4 linked regions of the Homo sapiens genome follow. The protein of the gene in region 1 interacts with the protein of each later gene in a biochemical or structural test. Each region holds a gene or a part of one and is shown in the gene's direction. Other genes may lie near its edges.

Region 1 (3,500 bases):
ATCACTTGGGAGGCTTTGGGAAGATGTCCCACCGGAGCCAGATTAAGAAATTTAGGGGCCTTATATATAATTCTATAGAAATGCTAAGACCATAAAATAAAAATTTATTTTTCAAAGTGAAACATTACTTAGAGGTATGCTGAAGTTATAATAGAGTTTTTCTAAGTGTTCTCATTTTTTTCCTCTCTTATCTTGATGCCTCTCGATATCCAGATTGTGTGCTTACTTTGCCCATCCATTGAGTAAAGCATCATGGCTTCCCACCCTGAAATCCCCCTCCCACCTGCTTGCGGATGGCTATGAAAATTTTCAATGAGATTTAAGGGTTTTCTGCCACACTTAAAGACTCGAATGACTAAGTTCTTTACGGAGCTGTAAGCCGCTGGCCTGGCACATACAGCTAGGCAGTCTCCACCGAGGCTGCCCAGTTCCTGTGAGCCCGGCTGTATGACAGTTCTAAGCTTCTATAGGAAGACAGTGGCACGTTGGGTCATCCTGCCAAAGGCTGTAAAACTCAGCTTCTCCCCACCCTAGGGAGAGTGGGTAACCAAAGGTGTGAGAGAGAAACCCCATTCAGTTACAACTTCATGATGCTGTGACAAGACTTTAAAAACAGAAACACATTGTCACTTTCTCTCTTTCAACATCTCCTATTATCGGACACTACTTAAAGCAATTTTAGCTTTGCTTTCAGGAAACTTCTACTGAAGTCTTCGTTCTGGGCCCATTTCATTGTCTCTGTTTGCTTGTTGATAACTATGGCATGTGAGATGGAAAGGGTTCACAACCAGGGCTGACAGCTGCTGTCCTCTGATGGCTCAGCCCATGAATGCTCTGGTCTTTCTATTCTCAGAGACTATTTTTTGTTTTGAGGCTTGACTATTTTTTGTTTTGTTTTGTTTTGTTTTTGAGACGGAGTCTCGCTTCATCACCCAGGCTAGAGTGCAGTGGCATGATCTCGGCTCACTGCAACATCTACCTCCAGGGTTCAAGTGATTCTTCTGCCTCAGCCTCCTGAGTAGCTGGGATTACAGGTGTGTGCCACCATGCCCAGCTAATTTTGTATTTTTAGTAGGACGGAGTTCCACCATGTTGGCCAGGCTGGTCTCGAACTCCTGACCTTAAGTTATCCACCAGCCTTGACCTCTCAAAGTGCTGGGATTATAGGTGTGAGCCACCATGCCCAGCCAAGGCTTGACCATTTTGATTTTAAGTGAAAAAAGAGATATTCTGGGCCGGGTGAGGTGGCTCACGCCTGTAATCCCAGCACTTTGGGATGCTGAGGAGAGCTGATCACCTGAGGTCAGGAGTTCAAGACTAGCCTGGCCAACATGGTGAAACCTCATCTCTACTAAAAATACAAAAATTAGCTGGGTGTGGCGGCTCACGCCTGTAATCCCAGCTACTTGGGAGGCTGAGGCAGGAGAATTGCTTGAACCCAGGAGGTGGAGGTTGCAGTAAGCTGAGATTATGCCATTGCACTCCAGCCTGGGCAACAAGAGTGAAACTCTGTCTCAAAAAAAAAAAGAAAGAGATATTCTGGGTATATAAGTTTCCTAGGGCTGCTGTAACAAAGTAACACAAACTAGCAGGTTTAAAACAGTTTTTAAAATGTGTTTTCACAGTTCTGGAGGCCTGAGTCAGAAGTCAAGATGCCAACAGTGTTGGTTCCCTTTTAAGAGGCTCCGAGGAATAATCTTTTTCATGCCTTTCCCTGCTTCGGGTGGGTGGAGGAATCCTCAGTGCTCCTTGTCTTGTAGATGAGGCACAGCAGTCTCTGCCTATGTTCCCTTCTCTGTGTCTAAATCTCCCTCTTATGAGACAGTCACTGGATTAGGAATTAGGGCCCACCTAATCCAGTATGGCCTCATCTTTGTGTGTGTGTGTGTGTGTGTGTGTGTGTGTGTGTGTGTGTGTGTGTGAGACAGTGTCTCACTACATCGCCCAAGCTGGAGTGCAGTGGCATGATCTCGGCTCAGTGCAACCTCCACCTCCTGGGTTCAAGCAATCCTCCCACCTCAGCCTCCCAAGTAGCTGGGACTACAGGCACCCGCCACCATGTCTGGCTAATTTTTGTATTTTTTTGTAGAGATGGAGTTTCAAAATGTTGCCCAGGCTAGTCTTGAACTCCTGGGCTCATGCAATCTGCCCACCTCAGCCTCCCAAGTTCTGGGATTACGGGCATGAGCCACTGCGCCTGGCCAGCATGACCTCATCTTAATGAGATTTTATCTGCAAACGTCCTGGGTCCACATAAGGTCGCATTCTCATATTCCAGATAGACATGAATTTTGGGGAAGAGGGGAGAACACTATTCAACCAGTACACTAGATAGCTTTGGTTTACTAGCATTGTGAAGTCTTTATAAGGCACTTATTCATTAAGGCGCCAGTTAGTCCTAAAAACCCACAGCCCCAGAACAAGGAAAGCCGAGGGGGGTCTCATCTTGTGCCCACCATCTTGGTCCTTTGAAGGTTCCACTTCTGCCGCATGAGCTGGGCTGAAGCAAACAGCCAGTGCCAGACACAGTCTGTACCTTTCTGGCGGAGGGTCGATCATCTATTAATAAGGCAGGATCTCTCTTAAAATCTTTAATGTATTGGCTTAGAGATAAAAGGGTCCGGGCAATCCTGACTTACTGCTTGTTCATTATCATTGAATACTAGCCAGAAGCTAATAAATATGCTAGGGTGACCACTTACCATTATAAGAAAACACTAGACATTTTATTTTCCAGTTATAATTGCTACCTATAAAATAAAGATCTTATAAACTATTCAGGTTCATTACTAAATGGTGATGGTACAAGAAAGCCTATAGGCTTCAATAATGAGGAAAGCAAAAGGGTAAATACCTTGTAATAAAGGTGAAAGAGTCAGAGTAGCTTTGGATTAGATCCAATTTTGGCCAAACTGAAAGCTTTAGATAAACACTTCTAGGGTAGAGAGTCCATGAGAAGGGGGATAAGGCAGATGGTAATACTGAGTAATTTCTGTTTCTACGCCATTTTTATTTTCAGAATTTTACTTTTCTAATTAAATTTTAAAGTCAACGTGTTTTTGTATTAAAATTATTTTCCTTTACACCATAGTATTGAAAGGTTTGCTGACTTCTAAAACATTCCTTTGTTCACCTATTCGACAAGCATATTCCAAGAGCCTAAATGTGCCAATCACATAAATGTGATAGGCATAGATTAGGAAATAGTAACACCTATCACTCATTGAGCACTTAGTGTGTTGCCAAAGACTGATTTAAGTACTTCACATAAACTTATTTGTGTAACCCTCGAAACCTTCCTATGATGTGGTTACGGATAATTATCTTCAGTCTATGGACGAGGAAAAAATGTGTAACATGTCTAAAGTTAACACTGCTCAAAGATAGTGGAACCAAGGCTCCAACACCAATAGCCTGGGTCCGCTGAGCTCAATCATTGCACCTCACAACCCTCTGGGTTTATGAAAATAAAAAGGGTACGGACCTGGCCACTAGGGGAC
Region 2 (3,500 bases), on another chromosome or scaffold:
CTTGTGGCCACACGGGCTTGTGATCTTCCCCTGGAGTGTGATTCCTCCTAACGCAGGCCTCCCCTGCAGCCCAGGGAAGATTAGTGTGTGCCCAGCACAGAAGGCTCCTGGAACTGCAGCTCTGACCCCAGAGCAGGGAGGCCAAGGGGGTAAAGTGTGCATGCTCAGACCCTTCCCCAGCCTAAACAAGGGAGCATAGGGGGACCCCCTGCAGATACGAGGAGACTATCCTTCCCCTGACGCCTTCTCAGGGACATTGGGCAGGGAGAGTGGCTCCTCTTTCATCCCACCTGGCCAGCTTTCCATCAAGAGTCCCCCCCCTCCCTCCCTGTGTGTACCCAGGTGCCCCAGAGGGATGGTCAAGGTCAAGGATTGTACGCCCTGGAGTGACATCGAGTGTGTCCACAAAGAATCAGGTACAAAGCCCACTGGGGAAGCCCCAGCTGCAGAGGAGACAGGGACCAGCAGCCCGAGACTCCTGTCTTTTCCTGTCTTTTCTCAGGCAATGGACATAATATATGGGTGATTTTGGTTGTGACTTTGGTTGTTCCGTTGCTGTTGGTGGCTGTGCTGATTGTCTGTTGTTGCATCGGCTCAGGTAGGTGCTGGCTGAGGGCAAGGGCTCTGGGCACTCTCTGCCCTGCCTTCTTCTGTTCCCACAGACAGAAACGCTCACCCCTGCCCCAAGTCCTAGTGTCTCTGGCCGGGCTCTATCTTCCTCCTTGTGATCACCCCCCATCCTCCCATCCTGTGCAACCCTAGGGCCCTGGTGTCATCCGTCCCTCTCCCAAGGCTGGGGGTCCCCTCATCTCCCAGCCAAGTCTGGGAAGGCAGGGCCAGTTCCTCCACTGGTCAGGCCCATCCAGGCAGGGGGCAGTCAGCTCCTCAACTGGATGACAAGAGTCGAGACGAGAAGTGGTTGTGGGATTTATGTAGCTTTGTTCAGAGCAAAACACAGAGCAGAAAACAGTGATGTTCCACTTGTTTGTTTTTAGCCTACTTCCCTTTATGCTCCCCGCTCCTGAAGGATCTCCCGAGTTAGCAGGGCCTCATGTGGATCCCCAGGCCCGGGGATCTTTGTCCAGTGTCCCAGCCCCCAGCCCACCCCTGCCCAACACTGCCCTCTAAGAAGGAGTGCTGCATGGGCCCCTCCCTGGCCACTAAGGGAACCGTCTTCTCTTCTAGGTTGTGGAGGGGACCCCAAGTGCATGGACAGGGTGAGTTGATTTCTCCAGGAGCTGGGGGCATCAGGGGCTCAGGAACTGCTTCTTGCCCACAGTGTAGTCCAGGTGGGTGGGTCCCCGTGCTCTCATGGCTGCCCTGAGTCTCTGAAGTGGCCTGGATGCTGTGCATTGACTATGGGGGACACAGGCCCTTTTGAGCATCATACAGGCTGGTGGGCCATTCTGTAGCCCTGTGCTTCCTACAGCCCAGGTGAGACCCTTACCCCACAGCCTGTACCCTGGGGATGGGGTGAGCCCCCAAGCCCAGCACCAGGGCCTGGCCCCAGCAGCAGGTCCTGGATGTGCTGAGCATGGACTTCCTGGAGTGACCTCACTGGGAGGGGGTGGTGGCAGCAGGTCCAGCCGTGCCCTACGGACCCCGTGGGGAGCCCTGGGTGTGGGCTTCTGAGTTGGCTCTTTGCCTTCCTAAGGTGTGTTTCTGGCGCTTGGGTCTCCTACGAGGGCCTGGGGCTGAGGACAATGCTCACAACGAGATTCTGAGCAACGCAGACTCGCTGTCCACTTTCGTCTCTGAGCAGCAAATGGAAAGCCAGGAGCCGGCAGATTTGACAGGTGTCACTGTACAGTCCCCAGGGGAGGCACAGTGTCTGCTGGTGAGTTGGGGACAGGCCCCTCCAAGACCTTGTAGGCAGGGGGTGAAGGCCATGCCTCGGCTCTCCTGGTCAAAGGGGAAGTGGAGCCTGAGGGAGATGGGACTGCAGGGGACGGGGCTGCGTGGGAAAAAGCAGCCACCCTCACAAGGGGACAGGCACTCTTCCAAATGTCTGCTTCTTAGTCCCTGTCCTGTCCTTGCCATGTCCTCAGAAACTGGAGCTCCAGAGGAATAGAGTGGGGGTCACAGGGTTTGTTGATGACTGAATAAGGCTGCACGGTCTCCACTGTGTGCTCCTACAGAAGTTAGGGAGCCCTTGCTCATAACAGCAGGGATTTTAAATTTACTCTGAAATTATTATTGCATTAAACATATTTGGATCTAAATCTCTGCCCAAATTTCTGCATATGGTTGTATGGAGGATTCCAAGAAGAAGCACAATTTCCAAGTCAGCCTGTAACAGTGCTGCTTACTGTGTACACGCACATACACGCACATGCACACACATGCATGTACACACATGCACACACACATGCACGTACCCACACATACAGGTACACACATGCACACAGCCCCCTAGTGTTGGTTTGTACCAGTTCATGTATTTTGATTTGACATTGAAGGGCTTTTTCTTTTCTTTTTTTTTCTTTTTTTTGCTATTTAGGAAAACATTGTTTTAAACGAACATTTCTTTGTTTTCACTGTTTTTGCGTAAGATCAGTGTCTTGTCTCTCAGAGTCTTTATGAGAAGGCCTGCTCTCCTACTCATGCTTTTTCTCACATTCAGACAGTAGATTCCTAATTTCTTCTTGCCCCTTTTTGTTCTAATATTTTCAGGTGTAGAAGCTTTAATTTTTAACCAGTGAAATCTGTAGATACTTTTACCTTTTCATTGCTCACTACTGTAGAAAGACCTTTTGCCAACACAAGACGAACTCCTCTAACTTCTTATGGAGATATTTTTTTCAATGATGTGATTTTTGCATATAACTTTATAATCTAAATGGAACTTGTTTTGTGTTTCAGTGCAAAGCGAGGCACTCCCTGAATTGTTCTAGTCACTGTCTGGTTTTTCCAACCCCTTTGAGCTGCCGATTCTCCCATTTCCCTCTGCTTTGGGTCCCTCCTTAATCACAGGTTAAATGCTCATCTAGACAATGATCTCCTTCCACCTAGACTGTTCCATTCAGTTCCTTTCTTGCATTAGTACCCATTTATTCTAACCAAAAATGTAATTAAAAAAAAAAGAAGGCAAACATTAAAAAGGTCAATAATCTCCAGCTTGATAAGGTGCTTTGACATGAACAAATAGTTTATATATTTAAAATGAGAAAATTTAAACTATCAAAAGGTACTCAGTAAGTAAAGAGAGCATCCTCCACTCTGCAGTGCCCTGGGTCTTTTTCCTCAAGTAACTATGAGATATCATTTCTTGTGATTCTTTGTCCAAATCTATGCATCAGTGTATGTGTATACAAAAGACATTATATTATTAACGAATGGTCCCCAACCTTTTGGCACCAGGGACCAGTTTTGTGGAAGACAATTTTTCTATGGACTGGGAGGTGAAGATGGTTTGGGGATGATTCAAGCACATTACGTTTATTGTGTACTTTATTTCTATTCTTATCACATTATAATATATAATGAAATAATTATACAAC
Region 3 (3,277 bases), on another chromosome or scaffold:
GATGGTGATCAGAGGCTTCTTTGATTTGTAAGAGAAGCACAGACATCTAAAAAGCAGCCCTTCTTAAATAATCCTTTATCATAAGGAGCGAACAGACAGAGCTTCCCAGGGGCCTGCCTCCACCTAATGGCGCGTCAGAAAAGCCAGCTTTGACAGATAGGTGTGTCGCCTGTTGCTCACAGAATGGTAGGGAAGCTATGTAAGAACAGTGGTTTTTGGTCCCAACAGAAGAGAGCCAGGGAAAGTTTGCAGGCCAACTTAGGCTTGGCGGTTTTCCTCAGCCTCCCTGGGGGCCAAGTCAGCTTTCCTTGAGACTGGAAAGAAACATCCTTCGAGAGCTCTGGCTCATAGACTGCAATGCTCTCCTGTTCCCTTGCTCAGGCAGGTAAAGCTCTTTGTAGACTCCACACTCTCCAATGAGATTTCATTGTGCTCTCCCTAAGAAATGTGAGCAATAGTTTCCTGACTTTTTAATGATCTGCCTGTTCTTTCCACTCAGAGATCGAGCCAGCGCAGAGATGTGCCTCGAACCACACAAAGCACCTCAAGGCCCAAGTGCGCCCGGGCCTCCTGCAAGAACATCCTGGCCTGCCGCAGCGAGGAGCTCTGCATGGAGTGTCAGCATCCCAACCAGAGGATGGGCCCTGGGGCCCACCGGGGTGAGCCTGCCCCCGAAGACCCCCCCAAGCAGCGTTGCCGGGCCCCCGCCTGTGATCATTTTGGCAATGCCAAGTGCAACGGCTACTGCAACGAATGCTTTCAGTTCAAGCAGATGTATGGCTAACCGGAAACAGGTGGGTCACCTCCTGCAAGAAGTGGGGCCTCGAGCTGTCAGTCATCATGGTGCTATCCTCTGAACCCCTCAGCTGCCACTGCAACAGTGGGCTTAAGGGTGTCTGAGCAGGAGAGGAAAGATAAGCTCTTCGTGGTGCCCACGATGCTCAGGTTTGGTAACCCGGGAGTGTTCCCAGGTGGCCTTAGAAAGCAAAGCTTGTAACTGGCAAGGGATGATGTCAGATTCAGCCCAAGGTTCCTCCTCTCCTACCAAGCAGGAGGCCAGGAACTTCTTTGGACTTGGAAGGTGTGCGGGGACTGGCCGAGGCCCCTGCACCCTGCGCATCAGGACTGCTTCATCGTCTTGGCTGAGAAAGGGAAAAGACACACAAGTCGCGTGGGTTGGAGAAGCCAGAGCCATTCCACCTCCCCTCCCCCAGCATCTCTCAGAGATGTGAAGCCAGATCCTCATGGCAGCGAGGCCCTCTGCAAGAAGCTCAAGGAAGCTCAGGGAAAATGGACGTATTCAGAGAGTGTTTGTAGTTCATGGTTTTTCCCTACCTGCCCGGTTCCTTTCCTGAGGACCCGGCAGAAATGCAGAACCATCCATGGACTGTGATTCTGAGGCTGCTGAGACTGAACATGTTCACATTGACAGAAAAACAAGCTGCTCTTTATAATATGCACCTTTTAAAAAATTAGAATATTTTACTGGGAAGACGTGTAACTCTTTGGGTTATTACTGTCTTTACTTCTAAAGAAGTTAGCTTGAACTGAGGAGTAAAAGTGTGTACATATATAATATACCCTTACATTATGTATGAGGGATTTTTTTAAATTATATTGAAATGCTGCCCTAGAAGTACAATAGGAAGGCTAAATAATAATAACCTGTTTTCTGGTTGTTGTTGGGGCATGAGCTTGTGTATACACTGCTTGCATAAACTCAACCAGCTGCCTTTTTAAAGGGAGCTCTAGTCCTTTTTGTGTAATTCACTTTATTTATTTTATTACAAACTTCAAGATTATTTAAGTGAAGATATTTCTTCAGCTCTGGGGAAAATGCCACAGTGTTCTCCTGAGAGAACATCCTTGCTTTGAGTCAGGCTGTGGGCAAGTTCCTGACCACAGGGAGTAAATTGGCCTCTTTGATACACTTTTGCTTGCCTCCCCAGGAAAGAAGGAATTGCATCCAAGGTATACATACATATTCATCGATGTTTCGTGCTTCTCCTTATGAAACTCCAGCTATGTAATAAAAAACTATACTCTGTGTTCTGTTAATGCCTCTGAGTGTCCTACCTCCTTGGAGATGAGATAGGGAAGGAGCAGGGATGAGACTGGCAATGGTCACAGGGAAAGATGTGGCCTTTTGTGATGGTTTTATTTTCTGTTAACACTGTGTCCTGGGGGGGCTGGGAAGTCCCCTGCATCCCATGGTACCCTGGTATTGGGACAGCAAAAGCCAGTAACCATGAGTATGAGGAAATCTCTTTCTGTTGCTGGCTTACAGTTTCTCTGTGTGCTTTGTGGTTGCTGTCATATTTGCTCTAGAAGAAAAAAAAAAAAGGAGGGGAAATGCATTTTCCCCAGAGATAAAGGCTGCCATTTTGGGGGTCTGTACTTATGGCCTGAAAATATTTGTGATCCATAACTCTACACAGCCTTTACTCATACTATTAGGCACACTTTCCCCTTAGAGCCCCCTAAGTTTTTCCCAGACGAATCTTTATAATTTCTTTCCAAAGATACCAAATAAACTTCAGTGTTTTCATCTAATTCTCTTAAAGTTGATATCTTAATATTTTGTGTTGATCATTATTTCCATTCTTAATGTGAAAAAAAGTAATTATTTATACTTATTATAAAAAGTATTTGAAATTTGCACATTTAATTGTCCCTAATAGAAAGCCACCTATTCTTTGTTGGATTTCTTCAAGTTTTTCTAAATAAATGTAACTTTTCACAAGAGTCAACATTAAAAAATAAATTATTTAAGAACAGATTGTGATGTTTTCAATTGATGAATGCTGAAAGAAAAAGAAAGGCTTGGATATTAAGACTGTGCTTCCTAAGCAGCTTTATTTTGAGGTGCACCTGAGCAATGCACACATCTCTCATCCATGGTAGCAAGGCAGCTTTTCATAAATAATAACTGTATGAGGTCCAGGCCCAGTCCTCAAGCACAAGCCCCCGCTTGACAATGAAGACACTCTTCCTCTGATGGGAAGAGGAAAGGGATGCTAGGACCCTGTGGCCCTTTTAAGCTTCCTGCCCTAAACTTTTATAAAGTGAAGAAAGAGAAAACAAGAGGGAGGAGGAGGGAAAGACAGGAAAGAGAGAAGTAGGCAGGCAGGAAGGAAGACTGATGTAAGATCTCCTGGGTCAGACAAAGCAGAGGAGGCAGCGTGGCTGTGCTGGCTGCCAGAACCAGGAAATTAAAAAATAACACATTCCTCCATGCGCAAGCCTTCATCCCCACCTCCCATCCAGTACAAATGGA
Region 4 (3,280 bases), on another chromosome or scaffold:
TTTTTTTATTTTTCATTTTTTTTATTTTTAGAGATGGGGCTTCCCTTTGTCACCCAGGCTGGAGTGCAGTGGCGTGATCATGGCTCACTGCAACCCAGACCTCCTGGGCTCAAGTGATTCTTCCACCTCAACCCTTAGAGTAGCTGGGATCATAGGTGCACACCACCATGCCCAGCCAATTTTTAAATTTTTTTTTTCTTTTTGAGGCAGAGTCTTGCTCTGTTGCCCAGGCTGGAGTGCAATGGCATGATCTTGGCACACTGCAACCCCCGCCTCCCAGGTTCAAGCTATTCTCCTGCCTCAGCCTCCTGAGTAGCTGGGGTTACAGGCACTTGGCATTATGCCTGGCTAATTTTTGTATTTTTGTAGAGACGGGGTTTTACTATGCTGGCCAGGCTGGTCTTGAACTCCTGACTTCAGGTGATCCTCCTGCCTCGGCCTCCCAAAGTGCTGGGATTACAGGCGTGAGCCACCGCACCCGGCCCAATTTTTTACTTTTTTTTTTTTTTTTGTAGAGACGGGGTCTAGCCATCTTTTCTAAGCTGGTCTCGAACTTAATGTGCTCAAATGATCTTGCCTTAGCCTTCCAAAGTACTGGGATTACAGGCATGAGCCCCTAAATTTGGCCCCTACATTTTCTTTAATCTTAATCAATTTACATTTAAACAGCCCATGTGGCTAGCGGCTACTGTACTGGACAGCGCAGATCCAGAGTTTAGGCAGAGAAGAGACCCCCAGGCCTGAGCCCTGGGCCACACTAGCATGTGGAGGTCAGGAAGAGGATGGAGCCGTCAAAGGAGGTGGAGGGGCAGCCAGAGAGGACAGAATCATGTTCTGGAAGCCAAGGGCAGAAAGTCAAGTCAGATGCAGGTGGAAATTAACCACTGGATTTGCAAGATGAGGGTTCCTGGCCTCCTCCTCAGGAGGAAGGTTGTGCTTGTCTGAGGGAGCCGAGGAAGGAGGGCCGGTGGTGAGGACAGGAAGTGTGGCTGACCGAGCCTGAAGCCCTGCAGCTGTGGGGTCTACGTTGGTAGGAGAGGCTCCCCTCACAACTGGAGTCGGCACTGGCCTGGTTGTCTGGGAGGCAGAGGTCCCTGATAACCCTGGAGCTGACTCTGTGTCCAGAGCACTGAATGCCAGGGCCAGAGAATCCTGCATGACAGTGACCCAAGCATGTTTCCTCGAACCCTCCCTTTGATCTATTCCATTCTCAACCCCCTGGTCGCTAGGCAGTGGCCCTAGCAACGGGTCTAGTGGGGTACTAAAGCCTGGGGGCCACCGTTCCACCGCGGGAGACCCGTAGTTACCTGTCCTCTGATAACAGACCCCACATCAGCCCAAAATTTCTTCACCAGGGACCTTACACATCCCGTCCTCGGTCCCCTGAGATACCTTGCTATCCTCTTCCCTTCAGATATCAACAGTGATGGTGTCCTGGATGAGCAGGAGCTGGAGGCACTCTTCACCAAGGAGGTGAGCATCTTGGAAGCCTCGGGCACCTGGAGGGACGCCCAAATCAGCCACTTGTTTCCTCCTGCAGTCCCCTTAAATCCCCCTGGATGGGAGCTCAGTGAAAACTACAACTCCCATCAGCCCCTGGGGCAAAAACGGCTCCCAGGAGTGGTAGCGTGCCCAAAGGACTGCTGGGAGTTGAAGTTGTCGGGAATGAGCTCGCTGGGGACCTCTCAATGCTGTCTGCCTCTCGCTTGCTCCTGCAGCTGGAGAAAGTGTACGACCCAAAGAATGAGGAGGACGACATGCGGGAGATGGAGGAGGAGCGACTGCGCATGCGGGAGCATGTGATGAAGAATGTGAGGTGGGGGCCAGGCGGGGGAGAGGACGGGCCCCCAGCTCTGTCACTCACCCTTATCTGGCTCCCCAGGTGGACACCAACCAGGACCGCCTCGTGACCCTGGAGGAGTTCCTCGCATCCACTCAGAGGAAGGAGTTTGGGGACACCGGGGAGGGCTGGGAGGTGAGAACATGGGGGATACTCGGGGTCCTGAACCTCTCTCTCTTCTAGCCATGACCTTTCTTTCAGAATCTTAGGCCCCTTCTCTTTCTCTCTGGGTCCCCGTCCATTCTCCTGGGTCACTGCATCTCTATCTCTGGGTCTCTGTTTTCCCCTGTCTCTAGGACTCTTATTTATTTATTTATTTATTTATTTATTTATTTATTTATTCTGAGACGGAGTCTCACTCCATCGCCCAGGCTGCAGTGCAGTGGCACGATCTCGGCTCACTGCAGCCTCCACCTCCCAGGTTCAAGCAATTCTCCTGGCTCATCCTCTTGAGTAGCTGGGATTATAGGTGCGTGCCACCACACCCAGCTGATTTTTGTATTTTTAGTAGAGGCAGGATTTCACCATGTTGGCCAGGCTGGTCTCAAACTCCTGACCTCAGGTTATCCACCCACCTTGGCCTCCCAAAGTGCTGGGATTAGAGGTGTGATTTTTTTTTTTTTTTTTTTTTTTCTGAAACAGGGTCTTGCTCTGTCGCGTAGGCTGGAGCCCAGTGGTGGGATCTCGGCTCACTGCAACCTCCGCCTCTTGGATTCAAGCGATCCTCCCATCTCAGCCTCATGAGTAGCTGGGATTACAGGCGTGAGCCACCATGCCTGGCTAATTTTTGTATTTTTTGTAGAGATGGGGTTTTGCCATATCGGCCAGGCTGCTCTAGAACTGCTGGACTCAAGCGATCCACCTGACCTGGCCTCCCTAAGTGGTGGGATTACAGGCATGCACCACCGCACCACACCTAGCTAATTTTTGTATTTTTTGGTAGAGACAGGGTTTTGCATGTTGGCCAGGCTGCTCTGAAACTCCTGGACTCAAGCTATCCACCCTTCTCAGCCTCCCAAAGTGCTGGGATTACCCAGGCTGGAGTGCAGGGGTGTTATCATGGCCCACTGCAGCCTCAAACTCCTGTCCTCAAGTGATCCTCCTGCCTGAGCCTCCCTATTAGCTGGGACTACAGGCACATGCCAGCATGCCTAGCTAATCTAGCTCATTCTTTTATTTATTTATTAATATTTTTTGAGACAGGGTCTCCTGTCACCCAGGCTGGAGTGCAGTGGTGTAATCATAGTTCACTGCAGCCTTGAATTCCTGGGCTCAGGTGATCCTCCTTCCTTAGCCTCCTGAGTAACTGGGACTACAGGCACATACCACCATGCCCAGCTAATCTAGGTCTCTGTTTTATTTATTTATTTATTTGTTTGTTTATTTTTCAATACAGAGTTTTGCTCTTGTTGCCCAGGCTGTAGTGCAATGGTGCATTCT

What was found.
Region 2: of the proteins of CASP8 (region 1) and TNFRSF10A, one has a biochemical effect on the other in vitro, tested with the Homo sapiens proteins (one study listed by BioGRID).
Region 3: the proteins of CASP8 (region 1) and TNFAIP3 form a complex in vitro, tested with the Homo sapiens proteins (one study listed by BioGRID).
Region 4: of the proteins of CASP8 (region 1) and NUCB1, one has a biochemical effect on the other in vitro, tested with the Homo sapiens proteins (one study listed by IntAct).

What each region holds. Positions count from the first base shown.
Region 1 is NC_000002.12:201,267,036-201,270,535, forward strand, and holds part of CASP8 (caspase-8 isoform 2 precursor), read left to right. Parts: intron 1-2,474; coding exon of another isoform or gene 2,475-2,570; intron 2,571-3,500. UniProt on the Homo sapiens protein: Thiol protease that plays a key role in programmed cell death by acting as a molecular switch for apoptosis, necroptosis and pyroptosis, and is required to prevent tissue damage during embryonic development and adulthood.
Region 2 is NC_000008.11:23,197,603-23,201,102, reverse strand, and holds part of TNFRSF10A (tumor necrosis factor receptor superfamily member 10A), read left to right. Parts: intron 1-342; coding exon 343-416; intron 417-502; coding exon 503-598; intron 599-1,185; coding exon 1,186-1,217; intron 1,218-1,654; coding exon 1,655-1,837; intron 1,838-3,500. UniProt on the Homo sapiens protein: Receptor for the cytotoxic ligand TNFSF10/TRAIL. The adapter molecule FADD recruits caspase-8 to the activated receptor.
Region 3 is NC_000006.12:137,880,536-137,883,812, forward strand, and holds the end of TNFAIP3 (tumor necrosis factor alpha-induced protein 3), read left to right. Parts: intron 1-499; coding exon 500-784; 3' UTR 785-2,777; downstream 2,778-3,277. UniProt on the Homo sapiens protein: Ubiquitin-editing enzyme that contains both ubiquitin ligase and deubiquitinase activities.
Region 4 is NC_000019.10:48,917,312-48,920,591, forward strand, and holds part of NUCB1 (nucleobindin-1 precursor), read left to right. Parts: intron 1-1,392; exon of another isoform or gene 1,393-1,414; coding exon 1,415-1,473; exon of another isoform or gene 1,474-1,580; intron 1,581-1,718; coding exon 1,719-1,811; intron 1,812-1,882; coding exon 1,883-1,975; intron 1,976-3,280. UniProt on the Homo sapiens protein: Major calcium-binding protein of the Golgi which may have a role in calcium homeostasis. Acts as a non-receptor guanine nucleotide exchange factor which binds to and activates alpha subunits of guanine nucleotide-binding proteins (G proteins).